Regions from separate parts of the Homo sapiens genome. Here region 1 is reported to be linked to region 2. Evidence: microRNA targets listed by miRTarBase, many of them from high-throughput screens and not tested one by one. Region 2 holds a microRNA gene; the other region holds the end of a gene's coding sequence.
What was found. Region 2 holds the annotated microRNA hsa-miR-6511a-5p (CAGGCAGAAGUGGGGCUGACAGG, at 2,950-2,972, opposite strand). A microRNA usually pairs through its seed, bases 2 to 8, with sites in the 3' UTR of a target mRNA and lowers its output. Matches are read on the target gene's strand: a 7mer-m8 pairs with bases 2 to 8, a 7mer-A1 pairs with bases 2 to 7 and ends in A, and an 8mer does both.

Region 1: the mRNA of NHERF1 is a reported target of hsa-miR-6511a-5p. Seed matches in the 3' UTR shown: 7mer-m8 at 666-672.

Annotation. Positions count from the first base shown.
Region 1 is chr17:74,768,199-74,775,310 of GRCh38, forward strand. It overlaps NHERF1 (NHERF family PDZ scaffold protein 1), which reads left to right. Exons shown (of 6, transcript NM_004252.5): 5 at 1-38; 6 at 270-1,155. The coding sequence ends at 458. NAT9 (N-acetyltransferase 9) reads right to left here. Exons shown (of 7, transcript NM_015654.5): 3 at 5,378-5,490; 4 at 4,698-4,841; 5 at 4,020-4,079; 6 at 3,762-3,856; 7 at 2,331-3,660. The coding sequence ends at 3,526. Among named protein-coding and RNA genes, the nearest start is that of NAT9, 4.6 kb to the right of the region's middle. RefSeq lists a silencer at 2,707-2,806.
Region 2 is chr16:2,103,769-2,110,858 of GRCh38, forward strand. MIR6511B1 (microRNA 6511b-1) reads right to left here and starts at 2,985; the gene lies at 2,901-2,985. It overlaps PKD1 (polycystin 1, transient receptor potential channel interacting), which reads right to left. Exons shown (of 46, transcript NM_001009944.3): 15 at 4,484-7,090; 16 at 4,115-4,264; 17 at 3,037-3,180; 18 at 2,630-2,909; 19 at 2,323-2,536; 20 at 2,097-2,256; 21 at 1,554-1,706; 22 at 730-874; 23 at 1-127.

The DNA of each region.
Region 1 (7,112 bases), not on the chromosome of region 2:
CCCTGGTGAGATCCGCCTCCAGTGACACCAGCGAGGAGGTAGGCCAGCCATGCGGGGGGTGGCAACTGGGTTACAGGAAGCCGATTCCCAGGCCCCACTTGTTCCTGGCACACCAGCCTGCCTTTGAGGTCACATGCTGAGCCGCATTCTGTTCTTGTGACCTGGCTTCCCTGGGCACGGCCCCAACGGAGCCACCTCACCAAGGCTGAGGACCAGGGAGCCTAATGAGGGACTGACTCCCAACTTCCTGCCCCCACTTCTCTTTACAGCTGAATTCCCAAGACAGCCCCCCAAAACAGGACTCCACAGCGCCCTCGTCTACCTCCTCCTCCGACCCCATCCTAGACTTCAACATCTCCCTGGCCATGGCCAAAGAGAGGGCCCACCAGAAACGCAGCAGCAAACGGGCCCCGCAGATGGACTGGAGCAAGAAAAACGAACTCTTCAGCAACCTCTGAGCGCCCTGCTGCCACCCAGTGACTGGCAGGGCCGAGCCAGCATTCCACCCCACCTTTTTCCTTCTCCCCAATTACTCCCCTGAATCAATGTACAAATCAGCACCCACATCCCCTTTCTTGACAAATGATTTTTCTAGAGAACTATGTTCTTCCCTGACTTTAGGGAAGGTGAATGTGTTCCCGTCCTCCCGCAGTCAGAAAGGAGACTCTGCCTCCCTCCTCCTCACTGAGTGCCTCATCCTACCGGGTGTCCCTTTGCCACCCTGCCTGGGACATCGCTGGAACCTGCACCATGCCAGGATCATGGGACCAGGCGAGAGGGCACCCTCCCTTCCTCCCCCATGTGATAAATGGGTCCAGGGCTGATCAAAGAACTCTGACTGCAGAACTGCCGCTCTCAGTGGACAGGGCATCTGTTACCCTGAGACCTGTGGCAGACACGTCTTGTTTTCATTTGATTTTTGTTAAGAGTGCAGTATTGCAGAGTCTAGAGGAATTTTTGTTTCCTTGATTAACATGATTTTCCTGGTTGTTACATCCAGGGCATGGCAGTGGCCTCAGCCTTAAACTTTTGTTCCTACTCCCACCCTCAGCGAACTGGGCAGCACGGGGAGGGTTTGGCTACCCCTGCCCATCCCTGAGCCAGGTACCACCATTGTAAGGAAACACTTTCAGAAATTCAGCTGGTTCCTCCAAACCCTTCAGCCTCCGTGTGTTCCTTGGAAGTTTTGTCCTCTGGCCTTGGACCCCTTATAGGTAGAAATTGAGAAATGGTAAGCCAAGGTGGTCTTTGGCTGGGAGGGTGGGGTACACTGGAGGGAGGGCCATCAAGGGCTCCCTGTGACCCCAAGCCTGGGTAGCTTTAGCTAGAGGGCCTAGCTGCAGTCCTGTAGGAAGGAAGATGCATGCACCCAGCCGGGTATTCAGCTTGGTGTGGTCAGTGTGCCTGTGTGCTGGGCTGCAAGCACCGATTGTGGGCTGGGGACCCCTTGTCTAACGGGGATATTTACAAGGGGAAGTGGGAGCTCAGACCAACGTTCTCAGAGGACTCTGGGAGGTTCCTTTAATTCCAGAAGCGTGGAAAGTGTGTCCCAGGATGGAGCTGGGTTTGGAATGTGAGGACTTGGCTTTACTCTTTCTGCCTATAGCCAGTGGGGTGCAGAATTCCCAGGGGCAGGCTGGGCTGGTGCCAGATCCTCTATCTTATCTGGCCATTGTGACCTGATTGGAGGGCAAGTGTCCAGTGCCAGGGGAAAACAAACCGGTCCACTGAGCCCGGGGACATGCTGTGTGGCTAGCTGGGGTGGAAGGGACTGTTCAAGGGCAAGGTGCCCTGCCCCCAACAAAAGACCCAGGTCCCTGATACCTTTGGCACCTGAAGCCTGATCTGGAGGTCCAGGAAGGTGGCTTGCAAGAGCTAGGCTGCAGAGCCGGGAGGTTCCGGGCAGGTGCTCAGGAGGAAGGTGCCCCCAGGCTAGTCTCCACCCAACCCAAAGGGACACCTCTCAGAAAATAGGCTCCTGGGCTGAGGGGAATGAGTAAAGCAGGTAGATCTGGAATCAGGGAGTGGACAGTGTCCCCCAGGCCAGTCACTATCTGGCCATCTCCTGCTCCTTGTCAGAGGAACCATCCAAAACCCTTACCACAGCAGTGCCCTGCTCAGCTGACCTGCCCCCACCCCACCCTTGCTTCTACCCTTTGGCCCCTGACAGATTCCCCTCCACAGGGGTCGTGGAGGGCCCCTCCCTATCTCACCTGCTGGGTGGGGAAGCCCTGGGGGACCTTTGACTCTTCATTAACCTGAAGACTGGTGGAAGGAATGGGTGGCCCCAAGGGAACTCTCATTGCTGAGGTACACATGGTACGAAGGGAGCCACGGCAAGCAACGCGTTCGTTTTATAATGTTTGTTTTATACTGAGGCATGTTTTCGGTTCCAGTTGTTCACATGCAGTCTGCTGTGAGACTCCAAGATCAAGGGTGCTGGGAGGCCTTAGGCAAGTCACCTTACTTATCTAAGACTGTTTCCCCACCTGGAAGATGCCCTACAAGCCTCCTGTGGCTGTGTTTAGAAAGCATGCCCGGCCTTTCTTGACAGCCAGCCACCCCAGATGATGGCAGGGCAAGGAAGACTGTTAGGAGTCAGAGTGCTCCCCTCAGGTGGAAGGAAACTGGGCCAACTCTACTTTGTAAGCCATAGGGTGCCAGGTAGCCCGGCCACCCTGAGCCTGTGCCTCCACTGCCCCCGCGTGGCCAGTCAGGTGCAGCTGCTCCCAGAGATGGAGGGTGAGGAACAGACGTGGGAGCACCAGAGGGACAGAGCTGATGGCCTGACGCTCTCTTCAGGAGGGCACCCCCAAGGGGCCTCTGCTTCCTCAGTGCCCCCTGAGCTTTATCAGCAGAGGGGTGTTTTCCAGCCACAAGGAGCTGTATCTAACACTAATGCCTTTAAACTCAAGACTGGCTCCAGGAGAGAGGAGGACGGACACTAGGTTGAGGGGCCAGGCCACACTCACTCTGGACCACCTGTTGTTCCCGGGTCAAGTTCCCAGGGTCACACCAGCCTGCCTCTGCAGGACAAGAGGACCAAGCTGCCCTTGAGTGGACACTGTGAGGCTGGGGCTCGTGGTAGCTCTTCACATGGACCAAACGGGAAAATCAGGAAAGCTGGTAGTGCCTGGAGCTTCACTCCCAGCCAGGGCAGCACCTCTGGCCTCTAAGGAGAAAGGCCTGTCCACTCCCATCCATGTTCCAGGTCCCCCTGCACCTCCAGCTCCCACCTTCATCCCGACATCTCCCATGGATCCCTGCCCTCCATTCCAGCTTCCTAGAGTCTGGGTCTGGGTTTGGCCGGGAGGGGAGAAGGGAACTGGCCCTGGCCCTGGAGTCTGCTCAGCCACACCACTAGCTGGAGGGAGGCCACAGCAAGCCCCGCCAGAGTCTGAAGGGCCTCGAAAGGTGATTCCCAGCCTGGGCCAGGAGCACTCTCCCAGTGCAGGGCTCTGGTCTTTGAAGTGTATGGGCCCAACACCCTGCTCACACAGAGTGGCTGCCCACAAGGCCCAGCCATCAGCAGGGCTCTGCCGACCCATCTCTGTAAGGCTTCTCTTCCACGTGGCTGGTCTGCTCCAGAAGCCACTGATGCTCGGACTCACTCACTGTCAGTCTGAGGGTCACCTCCTGAAAAACACTGCTCGTAGCCACCTACGTGAGCCAGAGAGAACAAAGCCTGCTAAGTTACAGTATTACCACCACCAGGCCCACCACCCAGGTCTAAGCCCCACTCTGCCCCAGGACATCCTTACCTGCTCAAAGTGAAGTTTCTGGAACATCCGGATGCTTGGTTCATTTCCTTGCCCAATTTTAGCCTCAAACTTGGTCAGACCTAGCGTGGTCACTCCTCGCAGAGGAGATGAGACAGGGGCAAGTAAGGAGGCGCCTGCCCCCACCCTCCTGTCCCAAGCTGCAGAGGAGGAACCTTCACCTGCCCCCAACCCTCACACCTGAACAAAGTTCACCTGGGGCCTGCCCACTTCCCGCATTGTCTGCTCACACTTTCTTACCGTAAGACAGCATCGCGAGAACGGCCTCAGTGCCAAGGCCCTTACCCCTGCAGCTGGGCTCTAGGAGAGACAACAGGAGCGGCGCTGACGCCGTGTGCCAGGCTCCAGTGCGGGCACTTGGCAGACACCATCTCATTTAATTCTCAACAACTCTGAAGTTGCTACTATCATTACCATTCTGCAGACGAGGAAACAGGCACAAAGAAGTGTGAAAGGCCTCACAGCTTGCAACCCAGCAACCTGACTTCAAAGCTGACCTCTTTACCTCATGGAGTCAGTATGCTGCCTCATGGGGATAGTCAGTAGCCACTTGGGGGAAACTGAGGACCATGAAGGAGCAGAAACAGGAGGGCCTCCTCCTGTAATATGACAACATGCTCCAGAGACCTTTTTCTGAGGGTCCCCAGCCCACCCCAACTATGGGACTAACCATACTTGAATCTACCCCAAACCAAGGGTTAAGTTCACGCCTAAGCATAAGGACTAAAGTGATGAGGCTGAGGGTGTACCACCAGGCTGAGGGGGCTAGGTGGGCAGGCTGCCCAGCCAGGCCCTGGACTCACCACATGGAGCCTCCCAGTGAACCCTGTGAGTGCCCACCCTTTGCAGCCTCGGCAGGCTCAGTCAGCAGATCTGAGAGCCGGGAGTCAGCGGAAGGCAGGGCTAGGTGAAACAAACCTGCAATCATGACCTCGATCTCCCCCAAGGTGAGGTCTTCTAGATCTGTGAGGAAGAGGTTCACATCTCCCACCATGCAGCTCTCTTCGGTGGCGCCTGGCTGGGCCTGCCACTTCTCGGCATCCAGCACAATGAAGGTACACTCTGAGGAGGAGGTGACAGGGCTATCACACACACTCCCCAGAGGAGAGAAGAGAGGATGGTACTCCTACCCAAGCCAGAGCACTGCAGAACACCAGCATCTCTGAGTCTGCCAGGAGAAGAGGGGGTCCCAGAGCTTCCTTCAGCTCATTACAAAATTCCAAATCTGCCTCATACAGAAAAAGCCTCTCCAACCAGCAACCAAATTCTCAGAGAGCAGGGAACACAGAGGAGGGCAGTCACCACACTAGGCTGTGGTGAGGGACATGAGGGGCAGGGCCTCAATTTACAGCCAGAGCCCCAAATGCTCTACTTTCTCCAAATCCTTCCAAGCCCGATGCAGTGGGTGGGGAAGAGGACAGAAGGGTCAGCCACAGGGACTGGCTTCAGGGCCATGAGAATACAGGAGTTCCAGCACCTTCCAGGCTTTTCACAAAGCTTCTATGGCCGGGGCTGGGAAAGGGAAGGAACCTGGAGACTGACTGTGGAGTCAGCCCTCCCAGTACCAGGGCTAGGGGAAGTGGGGGGGCACTCCTCACTGTCTGCATCTTCCTGCCAGCTGCACTGCATGGCATACTCCTGCTCCAGGGTCAGCGGCTCCGAGGCTGTCAAACGCTGCAGCTCCTCTGATTTCATCCACTCGTGGTACCTGCTGGGACAGAGGGGTGGCTTTAGACATGGAGGACTCATTCAGAGGCATACGTCTGACACCTTATGAGGGTCCAGAACCAGACAGGGCTAACATAGGGCTCAAAGAAGACCCAAAGGGTTATGATTGCTCCTAAGGCAGGGGCCACAGACACAAGACCCAGAAGCAAGCTAGTCTTACACAAGAACAGCAGGACGAGTCAGTTCTATCTGTCCAATTTCCTATCCTGTCTCGGGTCAGTGCGGAGGAGCAGTCTGAAACCAAACATTCTTCAAATTCCAGAAGGGGATGTATATGGCAAGCCAACCTCAACAAAGGCGGCTGGACAGATCCCACGAAGTTAGGGCACCAGGAACCCTCAAACGGAAAACTACAAGTAGAGAATACCCATCTACAGCACCACTATCCCAATCTACCAGACATGTGCCAACTGCCCCCACAGGAATCCCATCATGACTCAGTCCTGGCCTTTTGAATGGTAGATATCACAACTCATCAGCTCAGAGTTCAAGGACAAGCTAACATTAAGTCTCCAAGAACTGAACATACTCACTGGCACCAGGGAAACATCACTAATTTACAATTAGGTGAGAAGACAATTTCTTTTTCTTCCACGTTTAGTTTACATAAAGCAATTCCTTGCTGAAAGGCCAAAAAGCTGAGAGAATGAAAGGGAAGAGGATGGGCAGCTCCTCCCAAGGAAGTCACAGTCCCCAGGTTCTGCTATTTTTTTTTTTTTTTTTTTTGAGACAGAGTTTTACTCTTGTTGCCCAGGCTGGAATTACAGGCATGTGCCACCATGCCCAGCTATTTTTTTTGTATTTTTATTAGAGACGGGGTTTCTCCACGTTGATCAGGCTGGTCTCTTTTTTTTTTTTTTTTTGAGACGGAGTCTCGATCTGTCACCCAGGCTGGAGTGCAGTGGCGCGATCTCGGCTCACTGTAAGCTCCGCCTCCCGGGTTCACACATTCTCCTGCCTCAGCCTCCCGAGTAGCTGGGACTACAGGCGCCCGCCACCACATCCGGCTAATTTTTTTGTATTTTTAGTAGAGACGGGGTTTCACCATGTTAGCCAGGATGGTCTCGCTCTCCTGAGCTTGTGATCCGCCTGCCTCGGTCTCCCAAAGTGCTGGGATTACAGGCGTGAGCCACTGCGCCCAGCCTTTATTTTATTTTATTTTATTTTTGAGACAAAGTCTCACTCTGTTGCCCAGGCTGGAGTACAGTGGTGTGATCTCGGCTCACCACAACCTCCACCTCCCTGGTTCAAGTGATTCTCCTGCCTCAGCCTCCCAAGTAGCTGGAATTACAGGTGCCGGGCAACAAGCCCAGCTAATTTTTTGTGTTTTTAGTAGAGATGGCGTTTTATCATGTTGGCCAGGCTGGTCTTGAACTACTGACCTCATGATCCACCCGCCTCAGCCTCCCAAAGTGCTGGGATTACAGGCGTGAGCCACCGCACCCGGCCGTTTTTTTGTTTTTGTTTGTTTTTGTTTTTTTGTTTTTTTTGTTTTTTTTTGAGACAGGTTCTTGCTCTGTCACCCAGGCTGGAGTACAGTGGTACAATCACAGCTCACAGCAGTCTTCATCTCCTGGGCTCAGGCAATCCTCCCACCTCAGCCTC
Region 2 (7,090 bases):
AGGATGCGCATGAGGGCAGAGGTCAGGTTGTAGGCCTGGGACGCCACCATCCGAGATGGTGACTCGGCTCCCAGCTCTGAGGGCTGTGGTGCCCGCACGTCCGAGCTGGCCAGGTGGATGAGGTCTCCTGCAGACATGCGTGAGGTCAGTGCAGAGACAGGGAGGTAGAGGGAGGGTGGGGGCAGGCAAAAAGGGGGAGCCGGAGGGTGGGGGCTGGGAGAAAGGGGGAACCTGAGGGGGCAGAGAGCGAGGTGCAGGCAGAAGGAAGGGGGAAGCTGGAGAGAGAGTGGTGGAGGGGGGAGGGGGAAGGTGATGGGGATGAGGACGAAGATGAGGGGGATGATGGGGAGAGGGAGGAAAAAGGAAGGAAAAGGGTAGAGAAAAGAGAAGGGAGAAGAAGAGGAGCAGGGGGAAAGGGAGGGGAAGGGGGATAAGGGAGGGGAAGGGGGATGAGGGGGATGAGGAAGATGAGGGGAATGGACAAAAGGACGGGGAGGACGGGGGGGGAAATGGAGAAAAGGGGAGAGAGATGGAGAAAAGGGATGGTAATAGGGAAGGGGGAGGGGGAGGAGAATGGGAATTGGGGGAGGGGGATGAGGATGGGAATTGGGGGGAGGGGAGGGGGACGAAGATGGGATGGGGCAAAGGCGACGCGGTTGGGGGGAGGAGGGAGGCAGAGGAAAGGGCCGCACGGGGCGGGCGGGTGGCATGGGGCACGGGCCGCGGCACCTGTGATGTTGAGGATGCTGTCTCCGATGGCGGTGGGCGTCACGGTGCCCGCGGTGGTCTCTGCCTGCAGGATGAGCATCATGGCCTCCAGCTTGTGCAGCGTCTGCTTCAGGCACGAGCGGCATACGAGCTCCCTGCTGGGCCCCTGTGTGGAGCCAGCAGTGTCCAGCCCCGCTCCTGGCCCCACTCCTTGCACACGCCCTCCTCTCTACACGGGTCCTCACCTGGCTCCCACCCCCAGCCCTGCAGCTGGAGAGCCCACTTGACTGGACCCCCACAGCCTCCTCACTAAGCATTTTCTGTGGCTCTGCATGACCCAGGGCCTCCACCTGGGGACCACGTGATGCAGCCCACCGACCACACAAGGCACCTCTTCACATGAGAGCGGAGGAGGAGGGGAGAGAGGAGAGGGGAGTGGAGAAAAAGGGGAGGGGAGGAGGGGAAGGGCTGGGGGGGAAGAAGGGAAAGGGCTAGGGGAGGGGAGGAGGGGAAGGGCTAGGGGAGGGGAGGAGGGGAGGGGCTAGGGGAGGGAAGGGGGAGGGGAGGGGAGGGGAGAGTGGAGGGCACAGAGCAGCATCTTCTTAGTCCCTCCCCACATCTGGGCCCCTCTTTACACCCTGGGTCCCCCGAGAGGCACCCTGCGTTCACACAGGACAGAACGGCTGAGGCTACTGAAGCAGGTCAGAGACCGAGGAACGCCATGGCAGGAAGGAGCCCAGGCTGGAGGCTCAGCTCCTCGGCCAAGCTGCCCGTCTGCCCTGGGGGGCTGAACCCAGTGCCCTGGCAGGCATGCGGGGCAGGGTGAGCAGGTGGGGCCATCCTACCATGCACTGGGCCAGCGCAGCAGCGATCTGCTGGATGTCATCCACAGTGTGGACCCTCAGGGACACCAGAGTCTCCGTGATGTTCTTGCGTATCTGGGCTCGGTGCTGCCGCTCGTGCTTGGGCTCTGCCGCCACGTCCAGGGCCCGCTCGTACTGGGGCAGGCAGGGGGCACAGCAAGCTGTCAGCAGCGCAGGAGGCCGGCAGGAGGCCAGCAGATGCCCACGACTCCCGGGGTGCAGTTACGTGCTAGACGCTGTGTGATGCGGGCACTGACCCACAACACTGAGCTGTTTCTTCATGGGCAAAACAGGGTAAGCACATGGGCCCTCCTGGGCGGGGGCTGCATTGTGGAAAGCAGACGCCGGAGAGGGCCCGGTGGGTGTGGCTGCTGGGAGCGGAAGGTCGGGGTGCTGCTTCAGGGTCACTGGGATTTATCTCTGGGGCCCGGGATGAGCCCTCTGCAAAGCTCCAGGCAGGGGTACAGGTCTTGGTCCCAAGCACGCATGCAGCAGATGTGACGTCCCCTCCCAGGCTGCACTCACCTCGTTCAGCACGGTGACCAGGGCCAACGAGTACTCGATGACGTGCTGGGGATCGGCCTGCCGCAGCAGCCCTGGGAGCACACTAGCGGTGAGCCCGTGCAGCCAGACTGTGAGCCCCGTTGCGCTGCCGTTGGGCTCTGGGAGGGTGATGGCCAAAGACCTACGAGCAGAGGGGGGTGGTGAGCAGGTGGCAGTCTCGGGGGCGCCCTCCCACGGCCTGGCTCACCTGTTGAGGGCGACCACAGCGGCTCCCAGCTGGTCCTGCACCACCACGGCCAGGCCCACCTCGAAGTGTGGCCTGAAACCCGGGGGCAGCACGGCTCCGTAGCTGGAGAGGCTGCCCTTGTAGACACAGAACTCCTCGCAGTGGCCCTGGCGACAGCGCCGCAGCAGCAGGGCGTACACCAGCGGGGCGCCAGCATCCTCCGCGTCATGCCAGCCTGAGGGACGGTCCCCACGGCATCACGGGAGGGCTCCGTGACGTCACAGAGTCGGGGGATCCCGCTGCTCCCCCCACGCAGGCCTGCACTCACCCGTGCATTCGAAGTGCACCTTGGTGGTGAGGGCGTGCACAGCGCCCAGTGGGAAGAGGCGGCAAGAGCCCCCCAGCGGCGGGCGGTTGGGGGACAGGCGGATGGAGGCGCAGCCCTCCTCCTCGCCAGAGCGGCCCAGCACCGTGAGCGTGAAGGTGTATCCCTCGCCGTCCCGCAGCACGCCCCGCCGCAGCACCAGTCGCATGCCTGCACTGCCCGTGGATGTGGTGGTCTCATCCAGCACCAGCGTCTTGTTGCTGAACGTACGTGCAGCCCACCGCTGCAGGCAGAAGGGGTGGTGAGGGGGCGCAACCCTCTGCCCTGTCAGCCCCACTTCTGCCTGCAGGCCCCGTCCCCTCGGCCATGGGACCCATCCCCAGCCCGCCCACACCCCGCTCAACACTCACCCCTCGCTTGGAGCCGCTGCTGCAATTGAGGCAGCGGCCCTCCAAGTACACGTAGGAGCTGCGGCTCACTTCGTACACGGCCTGTGCCTTGCAGGACACACACTCCAAGGACACAATGGGCACCCGGCCACTCCGGATCAGCACCTGGCGTGGGAGTGGGGTTACCTCCAACACAGGTCTATTTGGCCTGCTGGAAGGACTGGGGGACCCATGGAGGATGCTGCTCCCAAACTCCAGGTTTCCCAGGGGCCTGGCCACTGCCGGTGAGCTCACTCCCTCCCAGGATACTCATCCGGTTTGCCACCTTCCAACTTGGACGGCGGAAGGGCATACACAGGGCAGAGGACACTGGAGTGTGCGTTCTGGTGTACTGGACCCAGCTGGACCCTAGCAGGAGGCAGGCAATGCTCACTGAGGGCCCCTGGGGGGATGCGTGTGAGAAGAGACGTATGTGTGGGTGTGAGGACCGCAGCTGCCACGTAGGCCTGACTCACAGACTCCTGCAGCCCTTAGCCAGGGCCTGGGTCAGGAGGCTGAGCTGGGATGGAACCTGCTCCCACACCCTCCCCTCAGACGACCCCTCTGGGAAGACCCCCAATCAGGCCAGCTGAGGAAAGCAGGGACTGGGGAACAGACGCCCACTCTGGGGCACCAGCAGGCCCCGCCTGACAGCAGCAGGAGCAGCCACCACGGGCTCAGGGTCACCAAGCCTCCTGGCCGGTCCAGAGAGGGGAGCGTGAGGGTGAGAACCGGCCCACCACATCCAGCAACAGGGACATGGGCTGGGGACAGTGGCTACCTCTGGGGTGGGAAGGGGCTCTTCCTCACTGTTGGTATTGCTAGGGGACTGTGTAGCTTTTGCCACTAGAGCATATGTGGCTTGAAGACTGTACGTGGAACTGTGGCAGGTTTGGAAGGAAGCAAAGCTGAAGCAGGCTGTCGTGTTACATAGAATTTGCATCAGAAACAGAGAGGGGAGAGCGTGCGGCCTCCACCAGCACTAAAACACGGAAAACAGTAGATGACCAGGGAGGCTGGGCTGTCCAAGGCAAGTGGCCGAGGGGCGGGCGGCACCCACCGTCTGGTTGGTGGCCTCCTCCTTGCGGCCGGCCTTCCACACGGTCAGGCTGAAGGTGTACTCCACGCCAGCCGCCAGCCGCTCCCGTGGAATGGTGACCGTGCTGCTCCCGCGGGGCCCAAAGTTCAGCGCACACCCGCCAGCCTCCCTCTGCAGGCCGAGAACAAGGGGCGACGTGGCCTGAGAGCCCCATCCAGTTTTAAAGCAGAGCCCGGCCCAGGAGACAGCGCGGGAGACCCCCTCCCCATGCTGGGACGGGGCCCACCAGGCACTGAGGACGGGCCAGCCCTGGTGGCAAGCTGGGTGTTCTCTGGGCTCATGGGTGTGGACGGGTGAGGGGCATGGAGGACGGCCCTGCCACGCACTGACCTGTGTCGAAGCCACACAGGCCCAGTGGAAACTGAGCGGCGTCTGGTCGCCGTCCTCCAGGTTGGGGTCGTAGGACTCGCTCCCATCCAGCACCAGGTCCCGTGTGTCTGACCACACGCGGTATGAGCCACCCTCAATGATGGGCACCAGGCGCTCGGGGGCCACCGTCACATTGGCCTGGATGCTCTGTGTCAGTGGCGTGTCCCCAAATGACACGACAAACACAAAGCAGTAGTGCCCCACAGGCAGCGCCAGCCGCGGCAGCACCAGCCGAGGCCGGCTCACGTCCACGCCGGGCAGGGCCACACGCGCTGGGCGCCCCGGCCGCTGGCAGCTGGCGGTGCGATACACCTCCCAGCGGTACTCAGTCTGGTAGGTGACGCAGTCGCGCAGGTCAACGTGGGCCTCCAAGTAGTTGCGCTGTGATCGCCGCATCAGCACCTGCAGGGGCAGGACCACGTCCACCTCCGGCTCCCGGCAGGCCAGCACCTGGACGGTCACCGTGGCCTGCGCCACGAAGAAGCTCACCAGGTTGGAGGCGTTCACCTGCACGCGGTAGTCCCCAGGCCTCAGGTAGGAGTGCTCGGCCCTGGGCTCATCTGTGTCCTGCCCTGGCGACCCATCCCCAAAGTCCCAGTGGTAGGCCACACGCCGGGGGCTGGGGCTGGTGGCGGCCTCAAACTGCGCCGAGCGGTTGGTGAAGCAGGGGCCGCTCTGCAGGGCCACATACTGGACGGCGTCCTGAACCTCCAGCACCAGCGTGCGGTTCTCACTGCCCAGGGCGTTGAAGGCGCGCACCTGGATCTCCAACAGCCCCGCGGCCACGGGCGTGTAGGTGACGTCGCGGCCCGACAGGATGACCAGCGAGTCGCCCTGGACCTTCTGCAGCGAGAAGTACCAGGCGTAGGCGACCCGAGAGCCGCGCTGCACGCGGGCTGTGAAGTTCCTCTCAGTGCCCGTGGCGATGCCAGGCTCGCAGCAGTTGGGCACCTGCAGCCCACTCACGGCCTCCAGCACCACGATGCGCACCTGCGCCTGGGCCCAGCTCACGTGGTTTTTGCCCCGCACGCTCACCACGTGGTCTCCGACGCGGGGGAAGCTGTGGGAGAAACGGGGCCCGGGGAGCACCTCGGGGTTGGCCCCGCCGACCTGCAGGCGGAAGGTGACAGCTGAGCCGGCAGCCAGCAGGATCTGAAAATGGACCAGCTGCCCGGGCGCCACCACCTTGCTGCTGGCCCACAGCACCAGGCCCACGATGGGCTCCTCCGCCGTGAGGTTGTACGTGGCTGAGACCCAGCTGACTGCGTTGGAGGCATTGAGCCGGATGGAGAAGGTGCCAGCATCCGGGAAGACCATGGTGACATGAGGGCCACGCTTGCTGCTGCCGCCGGGCACAGCCCAGCACCAGCTCACATTGGTGCCCGTGGCCAGCTGCCCCCAAAAGGGCACAGAGGACCCGGCCGCCACGAAGCTGCCTCCGGGCTCGCTGGCCCTGATGCTGAGGCCACTCACAGGCACCTGCACATCCACTTCCACGGTGGCGTTGGCTGAGCCCAGCGGGTTCCCTGCCGTCATGGTGACCAAGTGCAGGCCGGGTGTGGGGAAGCTATGGGTGGTAAATGGCTCGGAGGTCTCCCAGCTCAGCCCCTCCTCCAAGGACCAAGTGTATACGACACCACTGCCACCAGCCAGCTCGGCACTGAGGGTGACGCTTGTGTTGACGGCAGCTGGGTTCGGGGAGGCGGCCACCATCAGCCACCCCACAGGCTCCACGAAGTCCATGGTGCAGTCGGCCCAGGCGCTGCCCAGCATGTTGGTGGCCCGCAGCTGCACATGGTAGGTGCCGGCCTCGAGCACGGTGAGCGAGAAGCCTTTGCCGCTGCCGGCCAGGGCCGGGCCCCTGTCCCTCCAGGCAGTCCAGCTGTAGGAGACGTTGGTGCCATCCCTAACCACGGCCTGCAGCTGTACCGTGTGGTTGGTGGGGAAGTAGCGGCCACCGCCCACCACCTGCAGCCCCTCTATGAGCTGCAGGACATAGACGAAGATGCTGTCCTGGGCGGAGCCCACCTCGTTCTCAGCCGTGACGATGATATTGAAGGTGCCCACGGAGCGGAAGGTGTAAGAGATGGTAGGACCCCCAGGGATGGGCGTGCAGCGGTCACAGAGCACCCAGGAATAGCGCACATCACTGCCGGCCTCCAGCGACGTGCTGAAGCTCACGCTCCCATTCAGGGGCACCACCGTGCGGCTTGCATTGACGACGAGCCCCCGCACGCGCCGCTTCACCGTCACATTGAGCCAGGCCTCGCTGCGGCTCACCTCATTCCAGCCGGCCACCCTAACGGTGAAGTCACCTGTGCTGTTGTAAGCGTGGGTGACCTCCGGACCCTCGAGCCACCCACCGTCCCCCAGATCCCACAGGTAGCTGGCGGGGCGCCCACGGCCCACAGCAGAGAACAGGTACGGCTGCTGCAGCTCCAGCCCAAGGGAGCCATTGACCTTGATGCTGGTGACCAGCACGGGCTCCTGCACCTCCACCAGGGCTGAGTCATTGGCAGCAGAGATGTTGTTGGACGCGGTGACTGTCACAAGATAGGAGCCTGGGTC